7 linked regions of the Homo sapiens genome follow. The protein of the gene in region 1 purifies or fractionates together with the protein of each later gene. This does not show direct contact. Each region holds a gene or a part of one and is shown on either strand. Other genes may lie near its edges.

Region 1 (3,500 bases):
AACATCAGTAAAGACCTGTATGTAGGACTGCAGTTCTAAATGCCCATCTATCATTTTATTTGTGTAAGACCATAGTTACATATTTATCAAATATATCCAACTGCTTCTGCATTAAGAACTACCACAATTTACTTGAAATTTAGTAGGTATGACCAAAAACATAGGGTTCAGACGATCTCTGCTTTTCTAATTCTCTCCATTCTCTTACCTTGAGAGGTGGTACTTTTCGCACCTGGATTCTGTCCCCTCTATTGAGAAAGGGCTGTGGTGAGACCTGAAATGGCTGCTGGTGCTGGCGATTCTCAGTGACACGTGGCCTCTTCTCCCAGCTCACAGGGGCCTCTTCTTGGGTGAGGGAAGACTTCCTCTTGAGGCTTTCTGGGCTCTGATCAACAAGAGTTGCTAGAGGTTCTTTCATATTAGTCTCCTGTGGACCCGCTCCTGCTGTGGGCTTCACTATTGGTTTTTCAACCCCAGGACTCTTGGGTTTGCTTGGCGATGTAACTAAAGATTCTTGGCTTTCACTTTTGTTATAATTAGAAGCTGTGGTGAGATGGTTCTTCTCAGATTCCTGTTCAGCAGAGGTGACTGGCTTCTGCTCCAAGAGATCCTCATCCTTTGGGCACTTGATGGGAAGAATGCTGCTAAGCTCATGTGTATTGAGAGCTGAGGAAAGCAGGGGCTCTGAAGATGTGGAGAAGTTCGGCTGCACTTCACCTTGGCTTTCACACTCTTCTTTTCTGCCTGGTGATGACATTTGCAATGCTTCTTCTTTACACTCTGACTGGGAGACTACTGGAACTATTCTGATAAGAGAGGCCTCTGACACAGGCATGGATTTTGGTTGTTCAGCTGGGGTTTTCTTTACTTTGGGATCACTGGGAGAAGCTGTCAATTTCTTAGAATCTTCAAGGCTCAGGCCAGAACTAAAAAGGGGAAAAAAGAAATATTCCAGTTGAAAAATAGCCCATGTTGCGAAAGCATTCATTAATAGAGATAATGGAAGATGACAATGCCTAGGAGAACCCCTGACACAGCAGGTATTCATGTATTATCTTCACTATTAGTAGTAGTGAAAGTTCTGGAGTCAGAGTGCCTGGATTCAAATTCTGGCTCTGATACCTACCGTCCGTGTGATATTAAGTAAATGACTAGCCTTCTTTACTTCAGTTTCTTCAATTGTACACTAGGTTTAATTACTTCATAGTGTTGCTATGATAATTAAGTTAATCCATATAAAGTACTTGCCTAACACATAATGAAAGTTCAGTAATAGTAGTTATTATTACTTCTGCTTATAGAGGGGCCACATTGTCTGGACGCATGCATCACAGACTACCTGCAAGGGAACTGAAGGAAGCCCAAGACCCTTCCACCCTGTGATTGTGGTCAACTCTTCTCTGCAATATCTGTGCAAACCCAGGCCCAAAAAATCTAAGAGGACCTGAGGAGACAGCTGGCTGTCAATGTTCTATAGAGGCTGAGAATTATAGCTGAGTTTTGGAAAGCCCATTTAAATCCCACTTGGTTTAGCTCTAAAATTCTGAGATCGAGTGTCTCTAAGCTATTCTGAGGGTATAGTTCCATTGAGATATCCATAATGTGGCTTGGCTAAAAGCTAGGCTAATCTGTAAAGGTCATTAGTGACTCTTCTTAATGTTTTAGAATACTGTACAACATGTAAAATCAATGAGCCTTCTTTGGTGACTTCAAAGAGTCAGTACTGTGCTTCTGAGATGGAATGGTTAGGGACAAAACTGGGCAATAATCAAAAACAGTCTTTCTATAAAAGCTGACAAAAAGTAATAGTTGAAAATAGAAAGACCCACGAACTGTTGTAATCCTCTATCTGCTTAAGAAGGAGGGAATGGGCCAGGCACAGTGGCTCATGCCTGTAATCCCAGCACTTTGGGAGGTGGGCAGATCGCTTGAGCACAGGGGTTTGAAACCAGCCTGTGCAACAGGGCAAAACCCCACTCCTACAAAAAATACAATAATTAGCTGGGTGTGGTGGCATGCACCTGGAGTCCCAGCTACTCAGGAGGCTGAGGTGGAAGGACTGCCTAAGCCCGGGAGATTAAGGCTACAGTGAACCGTGATTGTGCCACTGCACTCCAGCCTGAGGGACAGAGTGGGACCCTGTCTTTGAAAAAAAAAAAAGAAAAAGAGAAAAAAAAGGAGGGAATGAACAAATATTTGTAGAATTACTGCTACCTGCAATAATGGTCTAAATGTACCAAACATCACTTCTATAGCTCAATGCTCATACCAAAAATATAGAAAAATCAGTTTATAGAACTCTTTTTTTTTTTGAGACAAGGTCTCACTTCGTCGCCCAGGCTGGAGTGCAATGGCGTAATCTTGGTCACTGCAACCTCCGCCTCCCAGGTTTAAACGATTCTTCCACCTGAGCCTGGGTCTACAGGTACGCACCACTACACCCAGCTAATTTTTTGGTATTTTTTTTAGAGATGTGGTTTTGCCATGTTGCCCAAGTTGGTCTCGAATTCCTGGGCTCAAGTGATCCGCCCACCTCAGCCTCCCAAAGCACTGAGATTACAGGTGTGAGCCACCGCAACTGGCCGCAGTTTATGGAACTCTTAATCTCAATAGGAATATTTCCTAAATGACTGTGAAGGAGATGGATAAATACTACTTGGAGACAAGGAAAAGGAGAACTTAGTTTTCAAGCTGTGGTTACGGGTCTTCTTAAGGGCTGCCATTGGTGTGCAGAAGGAAGGAAGGGAGACTAACAAGTAGGAGTCCAAGTGTTCAATCCTATTTCAAACAGAACATCTCCATTACCATCTATTTAAATGTCCCATTATAATTTCACTGTTGGATCTTTTGTTGGGGGGGAAAAACTGATTTAGGCTACAGCCTCTTTTAAACAGAATTTATATCTTGATTCAGCTATGTACATCTCCCAGAGTGCCTTTTACAGAGGAGAGGCTCTTTAATTACAGGTTGGTTCTAATAGTCCACATTACAAAATTCCTAAGATTCCTTAGTGATTCTGGATAGCTACATTTTGGGATAATTAACTACTATAAAAAGTGGACAGAACCTCAGTATTCTGGCTCGGAGTGGTGGCTCATACCTGTAATCCCAGCACTTTGGGAGGCCGAGGAGGGCAGATCACCTGAAGTCAGGAGTTCGAGACCAGCCTGGCCAACATGGTGAAACCCCAACTCCACTAAAAATACAAAATTTGCCAGGTGTGGTGGTACACGCCTGTAATCCCAGCTACTCAGGAGGCTGAGGCAGAATTGCTTGAAACCAGAAGGCACAGGTTGCAGTGAGTCTGAGATTGCGCCACTGTACTCCAGCCTGGGCGACAAGAGTGAAACTCTGTCTCAAAAAAAGAAAAAAAAAAAAAAGAACTAAAGAACTTCAATATTCTTCTATCTTATAAAGTAACCAGAAGAAAAACCAATCTTTTCAAAGAAAGGGACTCTTAATTCAAAGTTTTTTTAGAAATGTATTTTTTTTTTTTTGAG
Region 2 (2,564 bases), on another chromosome or scaffold:
AACTCTATACTTGCTGTTGGCCTGACAGCTTCATAAGTGCTTTTAACCTTCTTCACCTAGCTAACTTTCAGGTCTTAGCTTACATGGCACATCCTCAGGGAAGTGCTCCTTGCCTCTCAGATGGGTTAGGTCTCTCTCTACTGTATGTTGTTTCACGCACAGATCTCACATCTCTATAATTACTTGCTCAATGTTTTCTCTCCCCCACTAGACCATTATTTCTACAAAGGCAGCAATCGTGGCTGTCTTGGTTACCACTGGCAAAGTCCTGCCCAATGCCCATGACAAAAGCAATTAAAACATTTTTTTTAAAATTAGGTGGTTACACTATCCTTCTTAACATGATTGATAATCTCAGGCCATTCTAGCTATAAGCTAAGAATCTTTCCTTTACTGTACCCAGAAGAGTATCTTGGACCCACTCAATATCTTTTAAACAAATAAATCCCATAAAATAATATCCCCCAAATTGTTTAATTCAGTAAAATATGAAGTCAAAGGCCACCTAAAACACTATATTTTATTTTTAACTTTTCTATTGTTTTGGTCACATGTAAAGAATAAAAATGAAAACACACTACTCTGTCACATCAAGAAATAACTTTATCCAAAAGGAATTCAAATGTAAGATATATTTAGCATCAATTCATATATTAGTAACTTACACATGTATTGTCAAGTATGACATCCATAAAAGCACAAAACAGTTTCTAACACGTTCCATCAAACTTCTGGCGTACTTTATGTGTCATTTCCATGACTACTAACCACATATATAGAGACTAGGGGATACTTAGTGAAGACAGCTTTCCAGGAAGTTTACAAAATTGAAGAAAAAAAAAGTATGTCCAAATATGGCATAAGTAGCAATGGGGCCCTGAATTTACTTTGGAAAGATTGCCTAAGGCACCACTATAATGAACAGTTGTAAATCTCTGATCAGACTTCAAATTTTTCTGGTCTTAAAATTGCAATTCTAACCACAAGGTTAGGTGACTAGATTAGCTGGTATATTATTTCCTCTGTGCCAGCATCTGTAAGAAATATTACATCTATCCTGGGCACCGTCACTCCGATATATATTTGTAATAGATCTGATTATATGAGGTGTGAAAGTCAATATGGGTAATTTTTCTTTAAATGCATTTTAAGAACAAACAGCACTTAAATGAATGGTGGCACAACAGGGAAAAGGACTATTTTAATGTAAAACAATATTAAATCAGCGTATGATGAGGTTGAGTGCTGAAACTGTGAAAACTGATAATTTAGAAATTGTAAATGCTTTTATTCAAAACTGTAAAAAGGCACCAATTACCCTAGTTTGCTGGAATCACAGTTCTTATGAATAATAGCATCTACTGATGAACATGATCATGAATTAAATGTTTTAAATTTTAAAACAATTTTAAAATAGAATAATTCTGATAAAATCAGAATATAAAATAATGAAGACCAAATCCAATTGACAGTGATTACCTGTTATTTGGCTGAAGAAAACCAGGAATGCTCATAACCAGCAGTTCCCAAGCACCTTGTGCAGGTGACTCAGGGGCTGCTGTGGAGCTGGTTAAGGAGAAGGAGGATATGCCCAGTGACTGGGACCCTGCCACAGCATCAAACAGATAAGCTCACTTCTGTCTGTTTTACTGTACATTGAGAATATGTGTAAGTCATTTTTTAAAAGGCTTCTTGTGATTAAAAGAGAAAATTCTGAAAACCACAGCAACATATCTATGCTGTTTCCAAGCATACAAAGAGAATTAGAACATCTGAGACAACTATGGCTCCAAACAATCAGAAGAAGGGTTAGTTTTCTTTTCTCCTATTGATAATGTCAAAATGATGTGTCATCTATTGAGCCATACTATGGAGTAGCAGGCTACTAGTTAGATGCCTTCCCCAGTTAACAGCACATATCCAAAGGACAGCTAGCCAAGTGGGAAGGTGGTAGGTAAATGCTCATCTGGGCTAGGCAACCACCACAGCAAGCAGGTCCCCTCTCAGCCTGGCCTTGGCAATGAGCTGCTTCTGAGAAGCCACAGCTATCTGTGGTTGAGAGCTCACTCCCTTGAGGCATTGCAGAGAACAAGAGACATGGGCTGTGGGGCAGCTTTTCAATAAAACTGAGAGGCACATCAACATGGCACTGTATGTGTCCACTTAAGGATATATGATAAACATGCAATTTCAAAAGGTAAATTATTAAAGATAATTGGCCAATATATAGATATGCATAGTTTTTAGCACATAGGCCCTCAATAAAATATTAGGATCTATTCTGAAAATGTAATGTTCACTAAGTAATACGCTGTAAAAGGTAAAAGTCAGGAAAAGAAATTCAACTCTTAAAAAAAAAAAGCACATAAAATCCACCCTATCTTAATGCAGCAGTTGGAAAAGTTTTCTTTTTTCTTTCCTTTTTCTAAGTTGCAGTAGGTTTTATACCTAATAAGGTATGCTGTAGACATAGGAAATATCACATTATTAAATTGTAAAATGCAATTTTGATTAACAGATAACTGGTATCGTGAGTTTAAAAATCAGATGAAAATGGTTCTTAA
Region 3 (3,500 bases), on another chromosome or scaffold:
CATCCCAATCTGAAACTCCAAAATCTCAAACTTTTTGAGCACTGACATGATGCTCACAGGACATGCTCAGGCCGGGCGTGGTGGCTCATGCCTGTAATCCCAGCACTTTGGAAGGCCAAGACAGGCAGATCACCTGAGGTTAGGAGTTCTAGACCAGCCTGGTCAACATGGTGAAACCCTGTCTCTACTAAAAATACAAAAATTAGCTGGGCGTGGAGGCAGGCACCTTTAATCCCATCTACTCGGGAGGCTGAGGCCGGAGAATCGCTTAAACCCGGGAGGCGGAGGTGACAGTGAGACAAGATTGCACCATTGCACTCCAGCCTGGGTGACAAGAGAGAGACTTCGTCTCAAGAAAAAAAAAAAGGAAATGCTCATTGGAGCATTTCAAGTTTTGTATATGGGATGCTTAACTGGTAAGTATAATGCAAATATTCCAAAACCTGAAAAAAATCCCAAATCCTAACCACTTTTTTAATTTTTAATTTTTTTGAGTACACAAGATGTTTTGATACAGGCATGCAATGCGTAATATTCACATCATGGAGAATGGGATATCCACCCCCTCAAGCATTTATCCTTTGTGCTACAAACAATCCAATTATACTCTTTTAGTTATTTTTAAATTTACAATTAAGTGATTATTGACTATAGTCACCCTGTTGTGCTATCAAATAGCAGCTAAACACTTCTGGTCCCAAGCTCTCAGATAAGGAATACACAACCTGTATAAATATACTCCATATATACTTTGAACCAGTCCAGTTTTCAGCCCATGCATGCCCCCACTTTCATAAGTACCTAGCACCTTCAGTTCCTCAGTCATTCTGGTACTCTGCAATGCTAGATTCTGCCTGCCTGTCTGCTGGACTAAGGTTTCTGCTAAGTTAGTTATAATTTGCCCATCTGTTTTCCAGTTTCCAAAAATTTTGCTTTTGTGATTCTCTCATTTTGCACTCCCTCAACCTTAATGGACTTATATCTTTGTACCATACATTATATAAATGGAAGTCCAAGCACAGGAAAATGTTTAAGAGTTATAATACATTTTTAGAAATACTAGAAAGACAAACCAATAGGTCAAAAGTGGGAGAATTACGGGTGACTTTAGTTTTGTTTCTCCTTTGCTTTTCTGTGTTTGCCAAGCTTTTTGCACAGAGAATATATGAGCTTTGTAACAGGGGCAGGCGGCAATTGAATGTTAAAGAAGAAAACTAACATTGAAAACAATTTACAATCTCAAAATCCTCAGTATCTATGCATTTGGCCCCAAGTCTTTACATGCAGGCATTACAATGATTTTTAAAAAGTAGAATAATTTGGGCAAAGTCTAAAAAATATGTGAAAAAAGTGAAAACACAGGCATCTTTCTCTTTTCAAAATTCTATAGAGGCCTACTCTTGAACAAAACTACCTGCATTCAAACCTCTGGCTCTACAACACACTAGCTATATAACAAGAAGTAATTTAAACTTAATAATATCTACTTCCTACAGTTGTGGTGGTGATTAAAGGAATTAGCGCATGTAAAGCACTCAGAACAGTGTCTAGCACAGTAATACTTAAATGTCAGTTTTAATTTACCATTGCTGTGACACAGTTTAACATTTTAAAAATTGAAATAAGTGTAACTTCAACTTGTAAAAAAAAATCAACATTGTACTAACCTTCTGGAGTTTAAGTTGTATTTATTGAAAACTAAATATTCCAAAATAAGCATCCTTTTTACAAGACATTAAAAGCCAAATAACTAGTAAGTTGATGGTATTCAAAGTGGTTAAACAGAAAAATACCTCTGTCATTAAGCGTTTTAGTCCTTCAACTTCATCTTCTCCTGGGTTAAGTTCACCACCAGGTCTGTATAAAAGTTAAGAATTTCAGCTTTCAACTTAATACAATTTGGAGATAACAAATAACACAATAATTGTTATTTCTACCAAGTCACTAAGAACATATTTCAGCATAATAAGGCAATCAAAACAAGTATCAAAGTGAAGGGGGAGAATATGCTTGAATTCATGTCAATTCCCCAGACTAACAGTATACAAACCCTAGGTTTTTTTCCTCTTCGTATATATTTATTTTTATTTTATTGTAGATTCAACGGGTACATGTACAAGTTTGTTACATAGGTATATTGTGTAATGCTAAGGTTTAGGCTTCTAGTGAACCCATCACTGAAACAGTGAACATAACATCCAATAGGAAGTATTTCAACCCTCGCCTCCCCCTCACCCTCCCCACCTTTGGAGTATACAGTGTTTATTTTTTCCAACTTTATGTCCATATGTACCCATCACATAAACCCTAGTTTTAAACAAACAGAATATATAACATAGCACAAACATAAACAAAATTGCTAACCACCAGTCCATCCCAATCTCCTCTCTGGGAGCTATCTGATGATAATGGAGTCTAGAAATGCTCAGAGAGGAATGGATCACATTCTTTAGGCCTAAAGAATGGGAAACTTTTTCAAGAACGTCATCTAAGTATTGGAGACTTTTCTTTTTGGTATAATCTAGTCAAATAGTTACGGATCAAATGTTTGAGAGATGTAGGAGCTTAAATGATAAAACACTAAACTGTTATCCACAAAAACCTAAGTCATCTTAAGAACAGGAAATGCTAATCATACCAAGAAAGAAATATCAATTGTTCTTGGTAATGCTACAATGACATCTAGACATTGATCTTGGACTCAACTATTCCATGGGGTTTCTACCAAGCTCAATCATTAACATCAACAACATACAGAAACATACAGATTACTAGTTAGGAAAATAAATGAGCACTGCAATGGAGAAAAATTACTCATGATTTTCTCTTTCTAAAGACATCATTAACAGCAGTGTTTGTTGAAATGAATGACCGAGGGCTAAAATTGTATTCCAGAGCTGCATAAACAGCAATCCTACTAAAAACTGTCTTGCTGTTAATTTCCAACACTACTTACAGTTTGAAGAAAGTTGTTCCCAGCTGCAGCAGTAACACATGGGGTAGCCGGTGCTCATGTACAATCAGAACCCCTTCTACAGTCCTCCTCATTCCAATTTTATCAAATTCTTCCCTCATGCGCTGAAATCTGGCTGCAACAGAGCTGTCCTTCTCGTAGAGGGGCTCTTTTGTACCAAAAGTATAATTGGTAAGAGGGTACCTGTGATCCGAAGACAAACATCTAACATGAGAACTGAAGAATGTAATTTACCATGACAGACATTAGCATAAAGAAACCATGGTACAAAAAAAGTGCATATATTGTACTCAGACACAGGATTTGTACAGTTAACTAAAGTTAATGAAACAGCAGAGACTGGAATCTTGCTCTCTGGACTCTTAAAGCCAGAGCTTCCATTAGATCAAGCTGCTCCTCCATACTTTAACTTTCAAGTGTAGATAACACTATCCTTAAATGCTTAGAGAAATGGTTATCTGAACATTAGTAATCCTCTGGTTTTATACCATGGCTGCTATTTCAACATTACCAATTTGGCTAATAA
Region 4 (3,500 bases), about 150 Mb from region 1:
TTACACTTTCTATGGATTTTGAAGTGAAAGGTCTAACCTGGGTTCTTATTCAGCTACTTCCTAGCTGTGTGAACTTGGGCAAATTAACTGCCTTTTTAAGCCTGAGATTTCTCATTTGTAAAATGGTGAAAATAATAATGTGTTACTTTAAAGATACAATTTTGGTAAAGCTTTAAAAATTTATTTGTAAATAACAGATAATTTAATTCAATAATATGAAGTATCTACATACAGTTATTGCAGTTATTAAAATTACTTAGTAATGTATCCTAGAATAATTTGTTATTCCAGGATGTTTATTTCAAGATATATACATTTGATATGCTCCAGCCATGTTTATTTTCATTATAAAATTGAATCTTGGTATAGGTCATATTGGCGGTCTGTTAATTAGAATTGCCATAGCTGGTTATTGATAATAAGAGTAAGCTTTTGAGCTACTGTGTTAAATGATTTATATACGTAATTGCTAATAATAACAATTTGGTCTTGTTAGGTATTTTGTGGATAAGAATACTGAAACTCAGTATAAAGGTTAGGAACAAGGTCATTGGAGTAAGAGCTGGAGTAAGCTCAACCCTGCTTCTTGTTGGCAGGCCTTTCTAGTCCTCAGTTTCCTCATTTGTAAAAGGGGATAATATATTTATAATGTATGTCAAGTATCTAGTATAGGGTGGTAGATAATAAATGTTCAGTACATGTTAGTTTCTATTGTTACTTTTATTGCCCAAGAGCCTTTCACCTTATAGTAAGGGGTCCTTTGAGGATATTAACTCTTAACATGTAGTATCCCATTACCATTTTGGACAGCAGAAAATGCCCAAAGTATTCTTACTTTTCTTTACTCATATACCATCTTTTCTGATTTATTACTCCACCGGTGCCTTGCCATATTTTAAGCACATCAGTTAGTTTCATCATACTATAATTTATTAATCTTTTGAAATAAGAACAATATCTGTTCTGTTCTTTATTTAGAAGCTCAGTAAACTATATAAAGGATGAAAAAAGAATGGTCGGAATATTCCATTTATCTCGTTGTGGGCATTTGGGTGCTTAATTATTTAAATTTATTAATAACTTCATTTAAGCAGTAGCATTAATTTATAGTATGAGCTAGGAAAGTAGTTTTGCAGCGTTCCATGGAACCCATATGTACGCATCTTGAAAGTGTGATTAAAACAGGTATGTTTTTAAAAATTTGTTTTTATATTGGTAATAAAGTGTTTTCATTCCATCCCTCCTCACATGAGTACTGGGGAATCTGGACTTGAAAAGCATTCAGAAGAGTTCCAGAGGCTAAAGGAAGTAGAAAATAAAGGTTTAAAGGCTTTTGTAATATAGAAGTGATGCTATTGCTCACAATGAAGAAAATGATGGTAAAGGCTTGTATATCCATGTATCAGAATATTTAATGATGACAGTTGCAACAGATAATTGAAGAAATACAATGCATTAAATTCATTTTTCTCTTTTTTGAGATGGAGTTGCGCTCTTGTTGCCCAGGCTGGAGTGCAGTGGTACAATCTTGGCTCACTGCAACCTCCGCCTCCTGGGTTCAAGTGATTCTCCTGCCTCAGACTCCTGAGTAGCTGGGATTACAGGCATGTGCCACCACACCTGGCTAATTTTGTATTTTTAGTAGAGACCGGGTTTCTCCACATTGTTCAGGCTGGTCTCGAACTCCCGACCTCAGGTGATCTGCCCACCCCGGCCTCCCAAAGTGCTGGGATTACAGGCGTGAGCCACCGTGCCCAGCCTTTAATCTTTTGCTCTTGAAAATAAAGATATTTTGTTATTTTTACTCAGTATTCTGAGGATTTTCCAGTATTGAGGAAGGCACTGAGGAATTATTAAAAAGTTATTGGACCGACCGTCACGTTTAAGAGAATTAAAAAAAAAACATATTAGTCATATGAATAATCTTACACAGTTGTGCTTATGACCTTGAAGATACGAAGCTGAGATTGAATGGTGCAGATGGTAAAGCAAAATAGTGACAAAATAGGTTATACTTCAGACTAGAGGCAAGATATAGTTTATTGACAGCAGTGGATCCTGTATTTTATTATACTGTATTGCTGAATAGGTTGAAACTGGTTTTTTTTTTTTTTTTTTTTTTTTTTTGAGATGGAGTCTTGCTCTGTTGCCCAGGCTGGAGTGCAGTGGGGTGATCTCAGCTCACTGCAACCTCTGCCTCCCAGGTTCAAGTGATTCTCCTGCCTCAGCCTCCCAAGTAGCTGGGATTATAGGTGCCCACCACCACACCTGGCTAATTTTTGTATTTTCAGTAAAGACGGGGTTTTACCATGTTGGCCAGGCTGGTCTTGAACTGCTGACCTTATGTGATCTGCCCGCCTCAGCCTCCCAAAGTGCTGGGATTATAGGTGTGAGCCACTGCACCTGGCCAAAACTAAATTCTTAACAGCAATATTATGTAAATTTTTGAAAACTTTGATAATAAGATCCCTTCAGAGGCTTGTTTTCTGCTAATGAAATAGTTCATAGGCTGTAATATGAGTTTTAATTTACTTAATGTGGTTTATTAACATTTTATACTCTGAAATTACATGATTTTTAGTTTTTAACTTAAAAGATTTTGGTGATGGGTGCCCCATAAAATTTGTCAGTCTTATTTCTTTGAAGACTTTTGAGTTATTAACGTTAGCCCAAGCTTGCCATATTTTGGTGAAAATTGAAAGAAAACGCCACCAAACTTTTTAATATTTTTCAAACATTTTTGAAGTTTCTTGATAAGCAGTTATCAGATGGACTGAAGATATCAAATAGAGATGAGATATTGAAAATTCAGGCTTCTCATTTTTTTTTCAAAGACAGAAGTTATAATATTCAGTAAATCCAGCTATAGACATTCATATATAGAAGTATTTGCCTTGCCAGTAAAAGGGATGCATGCTTTAATTTTTTATTGCTTTGTAAATGATCCTCTCCTCTATTCTTGAACACTTTTCTTATTTTTGTACGCTCTATAAATGAATTATGGTTTTGAACTTTTTTACATCAGTAATAAAAATGAAATTTGATTGGTTGGTAATAAAGAAGGTTCTTTTCATAAAAGCAATCATTTTGTCATGACAATTCTCGTTAACTGTAACTGTGTTGGCAAAATAGAAACCATAAAATGCATTTCACTGTTTTTATACACTTAGCTATGTTTTTTTGCTGATCATATATTTTATCTCTAAGAACTTGTATAAGCCAAAGAATTTCTTCATAACTTGATCTGTCTTTAGATGGAAAAAAATAGACTTTTGATGTGTATATTTATTACAGTGGATACAGTATCTTTGAGTATTACAATGGTATTTACCCCCACATCATATTTTATTACCTGGTCAATTTAGAGCACTAATCAGAACTTTATATGAATAAATTGTGTCATTTGTATAACATGAAGAGGCCATTATTATTCCAGTGTTTATTTCTGTAAAGTAATATTGGCAGCTGACTCAATGAACTAGCCTTCTTTTGACCTCCAT
Region 5 (4,103 bases), on another chromosome or scaffold:
AAAAACACACACACGCACCTGAAATAGATGAGACAGAAAAAAAAAAGAAGAAAGCAAAAAGAAAGCCAGGCGAGGTCCCATCTGCTGCCCCTCCTCTGGGGGGACAAGGAACCCACGACCACCTCCCACCTTGCCTTCTTCAGAGGGCCCAGGACTGGGCTCAGCCCCGCTTCACCCTCCTTTGATTCCCCACATTCAACAGGAAGACTAAGTCCACAGCCGTCACTCACCGGACAGATGGTGCTGACAGTTCAGCACCGCTCAAACTCTGTAAGGAGACGTGACAACAGAATCTGTCATGGGATCCTGGAATAGAAAAGGGCAGTGAGGAGAAAACTCTGCAAATCTGACTCAAGCGCGGACTTTGGTTAATGTCAACAATGGTTATGTGATCGTGGAATTGGCTCATTAATTGTAACAAATAGGCCGGGCGCGGTGGCTCACGCCTGTAATCCCAGCACTTTGGGAGGCCGAGGCGGGCGGATCATGAGGTCAAGAGATCGAGACCATCCTGGCCAACATGGTGAAACCCCGTTTCTACTAAAACTACAAAAATTAGCCAAGCATGGTGGCGCACACCTGTAGTCCCAGCTACTCGGGAAGCTGAGGCAGGAGAATCGCTTGAACCCGGGAGGGGGAGGTCAGTGAGCCGAGATCGCGCCACTGCACTCCAGCCTGGCAACAGAGCGAGACTCCGTCTCAAAAAATAAAAATAAAAATAAAAATAAAAGAAAATAAATAAAGTAACAAATATACGACATCAGTTTAAGATCTTAATAACAGGGGAAACTGGGGGAACTCTATCTATTTTTTCAATTTTTCTAAATCTAAAACTGCTCTTTTTTAAATTTTCGAGACGGAGTCTCCCTCTTGTTGCCCAGGCTGGAGCAGTGGTGCGATCTCGGCTCACTGCAACCTCCACCTCCCGGGTTCAAGCAGTTCTCCTGTCTCAGCCTCCTGAGTAGGATTACAGACGCCCGCCACCACATCCGGCTAATTTTTGTATTTTTAGTAGAGACGAAGTTTCACCATGTTGGCCAGGCTGGTCTCGAACTCCTGACCTCAGGTGATTCGCCCGCCTAGCCTCTCAAAGTGCTGGGATTATAGGAGTGAGCCACCCCGCCCGGCCTAAAACTGCTTTTTTTTTAAAAAGCCTATTAAAAAAGAAAAAGTTGCGGAAGCCGGCTGCCTTTGGAAGCCCTTGGAGTATGCTGTTCAGGTGGTCTCTGCGCACAGGCCCTACCCAGGCCTCAGCTTGGCCTCCTGGACTTCCCAGCCTCCCCTCCACCTTTGCAATTCACCAGACTGGGGGCCAAAGCGGCTTCAAACGACCCTGGAGGGTGGTGCTTTCAAGGTCTTGGGACCACGGACTTGTCTGAAAATCCGAAGGCGTTGGATCTTCTCTTCCCCAGAAAAATGCACCCGCTTTCAGAGGTTCGTGTCCCACGCTTTTCTTTCTATCCCAACCTTGTAAGAAGCCGCCGCCGTGAGCGGAGCAGCACCTTCCTCCGCGGGTCGCGGGAGTCACCTACGGGAAGGGACTCTCCGTCTGGCACAGGCCCTGTCTGGCCTGGGGCGCGCATGCTCCGCCGCCGAATCTTCCAGAAAGCCGTGGACCCGAGGCCCCGGCAGACGCAGGCGGCCCAGCGCCTTGCTTTTGGCCCCTCGCCTCGCCCTGGAGCCCTCTCTCGCAAGGTAAGGGACTGCCGGGAACGCAGATCGCAAGCCGTCGGGGCTCTGTAGAACTCAGAGGCGCTCGGCGGAAAGCTCGCCAGGCGACCCAGACCCGAACCCGCGGGCTCCCCAAGACAACAGCGCCGGGCGGCCGGATGCACGTGCGTCCCGGGAAGGCGGGTTCAGCTGGCATCGCCTGGCCGGTTCCGTTCGCTCCTTAAACCACAAGACCCCCTTGGGGTCACGACGTTCCCGGGGCACCCCTGCACTCGCGCGCCAGCACTCCCGGAGGGGCCTGGGGAAGGCCACGCGCACGGAGAGCGGGAAACTCCTCTAGGTTTCCAGGTGGGAGATCCAGACCCTACTGAGACCCGGAAACCGCCGGCCACTCCGCCTCCGGAAGCGACACTTTGGGACAAAGCTGGGGACAAGTAAGCCCAGAAGATCCTCGGGAAGCCGAGAATTTCGCGCTCCGCTCTCCCACCCACGCTCCGCCTCCCGCTTGCATCCTACAGCTCAGCTGCGGTCTCGCCTGGGGCTCAGGGAAGTGAGGTCCCAGGAAAACCTCCATCCCCCGAACGCAACCTGGGCAGAGCCCCGCGTCCCTCCCCCAGCGGGCACCCACCTCGCGTGCCGCCCGCGCAACGACAGCGTTTACCGCCACCCCACACGGTCCGCCAAAAAGGGCGATTTGCAAACAGCCATTTCCCATCCACAATGCAGCGAACTCAATGCTGGGCACCGAAACGTGCATCTCCCCCGGATTCCCACCCCGCGTCCCTGCTCCACGCTCCAGGACTCGCCGCCAGTGGGGTCCACTCCGCCGGCGCGGGGGCTGGGGTGGGAGCCCGGGGCCACGTGCACGGCCAGCCCCCATCTTCTGGGCGGTCAAGACCGCAGGCGTGGGCGCCGGTGGGGCGGGGGTCTTGGGAGACCCTGTCTCGCCGCCTTTCGGTGCAGATGATGCAACTCTGGGCGGAGGCGCGGAGAGGGAAACCGGGACCCAGTTGAGATCCTCTGTCCAGAGAGGGGAGCGAGTCTCGGTGGGGCCGGATCTCACCTGGACGGATACATGGAAAAGAGGGGCGAGCGGCTGCCCCGACTGCGGCGAGGCGGAGACGGCGACCCCGGGGTGGCGGCCTCGCGGGGACCCACGGCGAGGGGAGCAGGCGGGCGGTGATTGGCGGAGAGGCGGGGGCGGAGGCCGGCGCCGGCCAATGTCTCGTGGCAGAGCACCCGCCCCCCCAGCCCCTCCTCCACCCCACCCAGCCCGGGCCCCTCCCCCCCACCCCTTCCCCACCCCGCCGCAGCCTGGGACCCTCCGGCCTGCCCGACCCCCGCCCTCCCCGGGACCCCGGCATGCCCCCACCCCAGTCCGCCCGCCCCATTCCCACGCCCTGTTGATTCAACCGCAGACCCGGGTCGCCGCCCCCTCCCCCGCCTTCCTCTTCGCCTGAGCCCGCCCGCCCCGGGTTCCAGCCACCCCCACCCGCGGACCCCGGTGGTGTCTTCTACCTGGTGTTCCGATGCTGTTTTACTTGGTTAACTTCTTGCCCTTCGGGAATTTAAGGAACCTTTACTGATGAGCTTGAAACGTGCGTCCTGGTGGGTGGGGGGCCCTGCGCGTCCTCGAGGACCGACCCCGAGGGCGTGTGTCGCGGGCCCGGGAGGGGGCGCCGCGCCGGGGCGGGACTCGATGGCCGCGCTCTGTGGCCGCCGGACGCCGTGCGCAGCGCCCCGCGTGACCGCGCCCAGAGCCGGGTCCGAACCCCGAGCCGAGGCGCAGAACAGTCGCCTTGCGCGGCTCCGGTGCGGCCCACGGCCAGGGGCTGCCGGGCGCTCTCGGGGACGGGGCCGACTCCGCGCAGGGTGGTAGCAGGGGCGCCCCGCGGGGCTCCTTCGCCAGGTCCCGGAGGCCGCGGGCGGGGCCGTTTCCCAAACATCGTGCTCTGGACTTTCAGAGGCTGAACCTGATCCCCCCGCCCTATGGCTAAATGGGGGATCCCAGGCCCCCGAGTCTCCCCCCGGACCTGCAGCGAAAGACACGGACGGTGCCCATCAGCTCTGGGCAGAGGAACGTGCTGCGCCTCCGCAGCGTCCCCGGCTCAGGTCAGAGCGATGCTCCGCAGCCTCCTCCGGCCCGCGCAGCTCCGCCGCGGTCTCTGCCACGTGGGGCTCACAGTAGGGGAGGGAGTGAGACGTGAATTAGAATTAAATGTCCACTGGCAGGAACTGACACGAAGAACAATAAAGCCGGCGATGTGGGGAGGGGACAGGGATGGAGTTACATCATGAAGGCTCTGGAAGGTGGCATTGGAGGCCGGGATCGCGCCACTGTCCTCCAGCCTGTGCGACTGAGCGAGACTGTCTCCAGAAAAAAAAAAAAAAAAAAAAAAAAAAAAAAAAATCCTGTCCAGTCTTTATAAGAA
Region 6 (4,072 bases), on another chromosome or scaffold:
ACTGGTGAAGTGATGTTGTCAGACATGGATTAGAAAGGTCATTCTGGCTGCTGTGCAGGAAGAGTCAGAGGGAATGGGAGAGGCAGGGAGGGCAGTTAGAAGCTCATGGCTAAGGTCTGGGTGAGGGCAGAGTTGACGGGGAGTTAGGGGGCTGAATGATCAGAGGCAGCCGAACATTTTTTGAGCACTTCTCACAAGTCTCTTACTAGGAGATGGACAAACTACTCATATCAACCTTTTTCAAAGGAGGAAACTGAGGCACAGAGTATTTAAGTAACTTATCAAAGTCACACAGCTCATGAGCATGGAGCTGGATGGAGCTCAGGTAGGCACACCGGAGACCAGCGTGTTCTTTACCATTCTCTTCTGGCCTTGGTGACCAGAATATACATCCAAGTTTCTGCCAGGAGCAGGGATAAGTCACACATCTCTGTATCCCCTCCAGAGTTCTGTATGGGGTAGGCACTCAACCAAGGTCAATTCCACACTCCCTGCTGGGCCCTGCAAAAGGACCAGGACAGTCGAGCCACTTGCATTCCTGCTCAGAGGTCAGCTAGTGTCAGCACCACCTTGTTTATTTGGTCCACTTTCTTCTTCCAGCCCTTTGTGTGAACTCTGCACGCTGTCCTTTAGTGCTGGCGGGCATGGTCTCGGTGCCCGTCTCCATCTTTTGGCCATGCCAGTTGCCTCCTCATCAAACTGGAGTCTCCCAAGGGCAGAGCCTCAGACTCTGCAGAAAGCCTCGAGGATCCTGAGAGCAAGGATTGGTTTTCATCCATTTGGGGCTCCACAAGGGCAGGGGCTGTGCCTCCCCCTCCTCTATGATAACTCCTTAGTACCCTAGTTCCAGCTCAGCTCACAGTGGGCACAAGGTGGGAGCAAGGAGGCATGAGGGATGCAGACAGTAATGACCATCAATAGAGGAGGTGACTCTGCTCTTGGGAGTTTCTATCCCGAAGGGGCTAAGTCTCAGACCTGCTGTTGGGGCCAGCCAGAGACCAGACTCCAGGATCTAGGTCACCCCTGTGGCAGTACAGCTGATTTATGGTGGCCCTGACAGCCTAATGTCATCAAATTATCCCACACAATGGAGAGAGGCTGGGCCGCCCCCAGGCAGTCACCAAAGGACGCTGAGCCTGGGGCAGCCCGGCTGCCTCCGTATCCCAGACCTCCCTCGGGTCTGTGGGGGGAGGCTGGCACAGAACAAGGGCACACCCAGGCGTGCCACCTTCAGCTGGGGGTATAAGTAGGCAGCCCCAGGGACAGCTCTGTACCCTGCACTTGGGAGCCGGTAGCACTCCTATCACTGCTTCTCAACCCGTGAGCTACCAGCTGTGTCATGAGCTGCAGACAGTTCTCCTCGTCCTACTTGAGCCGCAGCGGCGGGGGTGGCGGGGGCGGCCTGGGCAGCGGGGGCAGCATAAGGTCTTCCTACAGCCGCTTCAGCTCCTCAGGGGGCGGTGGAGGAGGGGGCCGATTCAGCTCTTCTAGTGGCTATGGTGGGGGAAGCTCTCGTGTCTGTGGGAGGGGAGGCGGTGGCAGTTTTGGCTACAGCTACGGCGGAGGATCTGGGGGTGGTTTTAGTGCCAGTAGTTTAGGCGGTGGCTTTGGGGGTGGTTCCAGAGGTTTTGGTGGTGCTTCTGGAGGAGGCTATAGTAGTTCTGGGGGTTTTGGAGGTGGCTTTGGTGGTGGTTCTGGAGGTGGCTTTGGTGGTGGCTATGGGAGTGGGTTTGGGGGGTTTGGGGGCTTTGGAGGTGGTGCTGGAGGAGGTGATGGTGGTATTCTGACTGCTAATGAGAAGAGCACCATGCAGGAACTCAATTCTCGGCTGGCCTCTTACTTGGATAAGGTGCAGGCTCTAGAGGAGGCCAACAACGACCTGGAGAATAAGATCCAGGATTGGTACGACAAGAAGGGACCTGCTGCTATCCAGAAGAACTACTCCCCTTATTATAACACTATTGATGATCTCAAGGACCAGGTAGGTGCAGGAAACTGTCTCTGTCTTGGTCTCTTTCTCTTTCATTCTTTATCTTCCAAAAAAGTTAAAATGCTAAACTCTAAGCTCAGATAATAGCCAGGGAATCCACCTTTTGGAAATGTACGCTTTCATCAGAAACAAACTTGTGTTTGGTTTCTGGGGATCCCAGGATAGGACTTTGGCCTGTGCTCTGAGTGTTCACTTCCATTTCCTCAACTTTCAGAGTTTGGGCAGAGCAGAGAGGAGACCTGGGTTAACGTGAGCTGAGCTGGGACTGGATGTGGAACCTCCTTTAGGTTTGGTCTAAGTCAATACTTTCTCTTCCTTTGTACTTCTCCTGGGCTTCTTTAGGAGTGTATCTTGATCTTTTAAGGTATTTTGGACCTGACTGTACATGTTGGTTATTCAAGTGTTGGAGAGGATCCAGAAATCTGGGAATGGAAGCTATCTATCCATCCATCCTTCCATCTATCCCTTCCTCCCTCCACCCACATGTCTATCTATCTATCCATTTATTCAGCCACTCAGTTCAGTGAGTGCCTACCCTCAGGGTTGCTCTGGGTAGACATAGTGATGTGCTAGACCTAGTTCTGGTGGAGCTCACGGTCTGGCTCTTCAGTATTCTCAGTGATTCCTCTTGTTTTAACTCCTGCATGTCTCTGAATGTGCTGTTTCTTCTACTCTAAACCTCTTCCATTTATTTATTAATGTTACATCTTAGCCATCCTTCAGGGCCCAATTCAATTGCCAGCCACCTCCTTCCTGAAGTCTTTCTTGATCTCCCATTGCCATAAGCCACCTCTCCTTTCCTTGAACTCTTTTAGGACACTTTTGACTTTGTAGTCAATGGTGGGCTCCCTGAGGAACAGGATGTCAGTAATCTCTAAATCCTACAATGCCCTTTGCAGTAGATCTTCAAATATTTGTTGAATGAATGAATGAAGGCCACACCAAACATCTTCGCTGAAGGCTGGAAGGGGTCTGTGCCATGTCCCAGCTGTTGGAAGTTCCTCATTCCTCTTGAGAATCTTCCTGGATGGAATCCTCACCTCCTGTGGCTTTGCCTGGCCTCTTGCCCTCTCAGCAGTGGTCCACAGCATGATATCATGGCTGTGTCCTTTTTTTTTCAGATTGTGGACCTGACAGTGGGCAACAACAAAACTCTCCTGGACATTGACAACACTCGCATGACACTGGATGACTTCAGGATAAAGTGAGTCCTGCTCCTCTTCTCCTCTCCTGTCATCAGCCCTTACCCCTGAACCTCAGTGCTCTGGAGGTCCTGGTAGGGCCTGGTTCCCTCTTGATTGTTTTCTAACCCTGGCTGGTCTGCAGGTTTGAGATGGAGCAAAACCTGCGGCAAGGAGTGGATGCTGACATCAATGGCCTGCGGCAGGTGCTGGACAATCTGACCATGGAGAAGTCTGACCTGGAGATGCAGTATGAGACTCTGCAGGAGGAGCTGATGGCCCTCAAGAAGAATCATAAGGAGGTAGGTTGCTGGGGCTTATGGCTTACCGGGAAGAGGGAGGAGCAGAAATGCAGAGACAGCAGGGGAGCTTTGGAACATTACCTGGGAGACACCCTCTCCTTTGCTCTTGAGGACACTTTCAACTTCTCCTTGGCATCACCTATGGTAGTGGTTGGGCTTTGGCTTCACAACTGTGTCCCCTTTTTGTACCCTGGGGGGACCAGAGGGAGAATTCTGAAAGGTGGTGCAGAGGACTTTATCCGTGACCTCATCTCCCCTTCTTCCCTGGCAGGAGATGAGTCAGCTGACTGGGCAGAACAGTGGAGATGTCAATGTGGAGATAAACGTTGCTCCTGGCAAAGATCTCACCAAGACCCTCAATGACATGCGTCAGGAGTATGAGCAGCTCATTGCTAAGAACAGAAAGGACATCGAGAATCAATATGAGACTCAGGTGAGCAGAGTGGGCTGCCCATTCATCCTCCTCCCCTCCATCTATTCCTATCTCCATCCCTCCCACCTCCCATTCCTTCATCCTCCTATCTCTGCATCTCTCAGTGCAGCTGTCATTTATCCATCTTCCAATGGAAGTCATTCATCCATCTTCATTCACTGCATAC
Region 7 (3,500 bases), about 150 Mb from region 1:
GTAAATGCAAGCAGACTACAGTGCAGTATAAGTAAGTTCTCATGGTACAGTCTGGGTGCTATAAACTCTCAAAATTAACAAATCAAAGTTCCTTTCCAAGACAAAGTCTCACAGAAGAGAAACTGCTGGGAGTAGAATCCAAGTTGTAGAATGCCAGACAAAAGAGACAAAGCAGTAAGTTCAGACAGAAGTGGTGGAGAGAAGCAGAAAAGGCACATCTCAGAAAGCACAAGGTACATGTATTCTCACTTTGCAAAAGCCAGAGAAGAGACAGCTTTAACCTAGAAAATGAACTAGGAAAGTTATCCTTGCCCATTCCCTCCCTCCTAAAAATACACAAAAATTCATTTCACTAGTAGACAATAGCAAAGAAAAGGATCTCAGTCAGATTCCATAAAAGTTATTGTGGTGTCAAGAAAATTAGATAGGAAAGGAATAGTCTTTTCAAGAAATGGTGCTGGGAAAACTAGATATACATATGCAAAAGAATAAAGCTGGCCCAGGTGCCATGGCTCATGCCTGTAATCCCAGCACTTTGAGAAGCCAAGGTGGGTGGATCACATGAGCTCAGGAGTTTGAGACCAGCTTGGCAACATGGCAAAACCCCATCTCCACAAAAAATACAAAAATTAGCTGAGCATGGTGGCATGCACCTATAGTCTCAGCCACCCTGGGGGCTGAGATGGGTGGATGGTTTGAGCCCAGGATGTCGAGGCTGCAGTGAGCTGAAATCACACCACTGCACTCCAGCCTAGGCGATGGGAGTGAGACCTTGTCTCAAAAAATAAAAAAATAAAAAAAATAAAGTTGGATCCCTCCTTCCTTACATCATATAGAAAAATTAAATGTATCACAGATCTAAATGGAAAGTAAAACTATGAAACTTTTTTTTTTTTTTTTTCTGAGACCGCGTCTCGCTCTGTCGCCCAGGTTGGAGTGCAGTGGCATGATCTCAGCTCACTGGGTTCATGCGATTCTCCTGCCTCAGCCTCCCAAGTAGCTGGGATTACAGGCGTGCACCACCATGCTCAGCTAATTTTTGTATTTTTAGTAGAGAAGGGGTTTCACCATGTTGGCCAGGCTGATCTTGAACTCCTGACCTCAGGTGATCCACCCACCTCGGCCTCCCAAAGTGCTAGGATTACAAGCGTGAGCCACCGTGCCTGGCCAAAACTATGAAACTCTTAAAGGAAGCATACAAGTAAATCTTTGTGACCTTGAACTCAGCAATGATTTCTCAGTTGAGAAGCCAAAAGCACAATGATAAAAGAAAAAGTAGGTAAACTGAGCTACATCAAAATTAAATACTTTTGGGCTTCAAATGATATCAAGAAAGTGAAAAGAGAACCTACACAATGGGAGAAAATATTTGCAAACCATGTATCTGATACATCACTGTGTCCACAGTGCTTACAATAGCCTATAAGTACATGAAAAGATGTTCAACATCATTAGTCGTGAGAGGAATGCAAATCAAAACCACAATGAGGTATCACTTCATACCACTAGGATAGCTAGTATAAAAAAGTAACAAATGTTGGTGAAGATACAGGAAATCAGAACCTTCATACCTTGCTGGGGAATGTAAAATGGTGCTGCCACTTGAAAAACAGTTTGGCAGCTCCTCAAAATGCTAATTAGTTACCATGTGACCCAACAATCCCACTCCTAGGTATATACCCGAGAGAAATAAAAACTTGCACATTCACAGCAGCATGATTCATAATAGCCAAAAAGCAGAAGCAACTGAAGTGTTCATCTGATGAATGTATAAACAAAAAGTGGTATATCTATACAATGGGGTATCATTCAGCTATAAAAGGAACAATACATTGATACAAGAAGTATCAATATGAAGGATGACCCTTGAAAACATTATGCAAAGTGAGAGAAGCCAGTACACAATTGCAAGATTCCATGAAATGTCCATGAACTGTCCATAACAGGCAGACCCAAAGAGATAGAAAGTAGATTGATTAGTGGTTTCCAGGAGCTGTGGGGGTAGGGGAGAATGTGGAGTGACTGCTAATGGGCATAATTTTTCTTTCTAAAATTTGAAAATGTTCTAAAATTAGATACTGGCAATTAGGCGTGCCTCTGTGAATATACTAAGAACCACTGAATTGTATACTTTAAAAGGGTGAATTTCATGGTATAAGGGTTTTGCTCAATAAAACTGTTACTTAAAAAGAAACTTATTTTAAAAGAAGAGATAAGGTGATCTAAAAAAAAAAGTGATAAAGAAGATCAGCAAAAGTACATCTACAATGGCAGGTCCTGAAGAAGAAAACCAAAGCAGTAATACAGAACAAATACCAAAAACAACTCAAAAGAACTCTCCTAAAATGAAAGACAGCTTGAAACTACATATTGAAAGGATATCCTGTGTATCTAGGAACACTGACCCTCTAAAGAAAAGGGAAAAAATCATTTGATCACCCACATTTTTTAAAAAGACCAAATCGCAAGTAGGAAAAAGAAAATCAGATTGTGATCAGATTTTGTGACAGCAATGCTTTTTTCCAGAAGTCCACAGAGTAACTAAGGTATGCAAAGAAAGAAAACGTAAGTCATGGATTTTATAAACAATCAAACTAATCTTCATAATCATGTACTTTTGTGGAATATGGGAATAATGCACCTGTGGGCACCTTCTGCATCACGTACTATAGAATGAGCTTCAGATGACCAAAAAGACTGAAGAGACGTTAACGTAAGGTCTGGTGGATAACCAAATCATTTATGAGGGTAAACGTCTCATTACAGAAACATAAACTATCTGCAACCACACACATTAATATGAATGACACCACAGGAATGCAAAATCGAGACTGAGAAACCCTACAGGACCAACTTGACAGACACCAACCTGGTTTCTTCCTCAAGAATAAAACAGCAAGAAAAAAAAGAGGGATGCAAGCCCTACTTTAAAGAGGAACTTAAAAGGTATGTCAATTGTGGCTGGGCTTGGTGGCTCAAAATCCCAGGACTTTGGAAAGCCGAGGAGGGCTGAGGCAGGCGGATCACTTGAGGCCAGGAGTTTGAGACCAGCCTGGCCAACATGGTGAAACCCTGTCTCTACAAAAAATATAAAAATTAGCCAGGCATGGTGGCGGGCGCCTGTGATCCCAGCTACTCAGGAGGCTGAGGCATAAGAATCACTTGAACCCAGGAGACAGAGGTTGCAGTGAGCCAAGATCGTGCCACTGCACTCCAGCCTGGGCAACAGAGTGAGATTCGGTCTCAAAAAAAAAAAAAAAAAAAAAAAAAAAGAGATATGTCAATCGCAAATGGATGGCCCTCCTTTGGATCCTGCTTCAAATAAATAGTAAAAAGAAAAAAAAAATTGAACACTGATAGGCCATTTGACGAAAATAAGGAGCCAATGTTCATTTTGGGGCATTTAATAATGATATGGTAGTATTTTTTAAAGAGGTTTTATTTTTTAGAAATACATAATGAATATTTATAGTTGAAATGGTATGTATAGGCTTGATTTT

Evidence for each region.
Region 2: the proteins of ASXL2 (region 1) and CPNE3 purify together in Homo sapiens (affinity purification with mass spectrometry, with the first as the bait; one study listed by BioGRID). This does not show direct contact.
Region 3: the proteins of ASXL2 (region 1) and NUDT21 purify together in Homo sapiens (affinity purification with mass spectrometry, with the first as the bait; one study listed by BioGRID). This does not show direct contact.
Region 4: the proteins of ASXL2 (region 1) and MTX2 purify together in Homo sapiens (affinity purification with mass spectrometry, with the first as the bait; one study listed by BioGRID). This does not show direct contact.
Region 5: the proteins of ASXL2 (region 1) and CBS purify together in Homo sapiens (affinity purification with mass spectrometry, with the first as the bait; one study listed by BioGRID). This does not show direct contact.
Region 6: the proteins of ASXL2 (region 1) and KRT9 purify together in Homo sapiens (affinity purification with mass spectrometry, with the first as the bait; one study listed by BioGRID). This does not show direct contact.
Region 7: the proteins of ASXL2 (region 1) and DYNC1I2 purify together in Homo sapiens (affinity purification with mass spectrometry, with the first as the bait; one study listed by BioGRID). This does not show direct contact.

What each region holds. Positions count from the first base shown.
Region 1 is NC_000002.12:25,749,488-25,752,987, forward strand, and holds part of ASXL2 (putative Polycomb group protein ASXL2), read right to left. Parts: intron 927-3,500; coding exon 209-926; intron 1-208.
Region 2 is NC_000008.11:86,559,435-86,561,998, reverse strand, and holds the end of CPNE3 (copine-3), read right to left. Parts: 3' UTR 501-2,564; downstream 1-500. UniProt on the Homo sapiens protein: Calcium-dependent phospholipid-binding protein that plays a role in ERBB2-mediated tumor cell migration in response to growth factor heregulin stimulation.
Region 3 is NC_000016.10:56,444,833-56,448,332, forward strand, and holds part of NUDT21 (cleavage and polyadenylation specificity factor subunit 5), read right to left. Parts: intron 3,158-3,500; coding exon 2,957-3,157; intron 1,858-2,956; coding exon 1,794-1,857; intron 1-1,793. UniProt on the Homo sapiens protein: Component of the cleavage factor Im (CFIm) complex that functions as an activator of the pre-mRNA 3'-end cleavage and polyadenylation processing required for the maturation of pre-mRNA into functional mRNAs.
Region 4 is NC_000002.12:176,275,942-176,279,441, forward strand, and holds part of MTX2 (metaxin-2), read left to right. Parts: intron 1-3,500. UniProt on the Homo sapiens protein: Involved in transport of proteins into the mitochondrion.
Region 5 is NC_000021.9:43,073,036-43,077,138, forward strand, and holds the start of CBS (cystathionine beta-synthase), read right to left. Parts: upstream 2,801-4,103; 5' UTR 2,735-2,800; exon of another isoform or gene 1,468-2,734; intron 307-1,467; 5' UTR 231-306; intron 1-230. UniProt on the Homo sapiens protein: Hydro-lyase catalyzing the first step of the transsulfuration pathway, where the hydroxyl group of L-serine is displaced by L-homocysteine in a beta-replacement reaction to form L-cystathionine, the precursor of L-cysteine.
Region 6 is NC_000017.11:41,569,260-41,573,331, reverse strand, and holds the start of KRT9 (keratin, type I cytoskeletal 9), read left to right. Parts: upstream 1-1,272; 5' UTR 1,273-1,339; coding exon 1,340-1,981; intron 1,982-3,111; coding exon 3,112-3,194; intron 3,195-3,316; coding exon 3,317-3,473; intron 3,474-3,744; coding exon 3,745-3,906; intron 3,907-4,072. UniProt on the Homo sapiens protein: May serve an important special function either in the mature palmar and plantar skin tissue or in the morphogenetic program of the formation of these tissues. Plays a role in keratin filament assembly.
Region 7 is NC_000002.12:171,739,469-171,742,968, reverse strand, and holds part of DYNC1I2 (cytoplasmic dynein 1 intermediate chain 2), read right to left. Parts: intron 1-3,500. UniProt on the Homo sapiens protein: Acts as one of several non-catalytic accessory components of the cytoplasmic dynein 1 complex that are thought to be involved in linking dynein to cargos and to adapter proteins that regulate dynein function.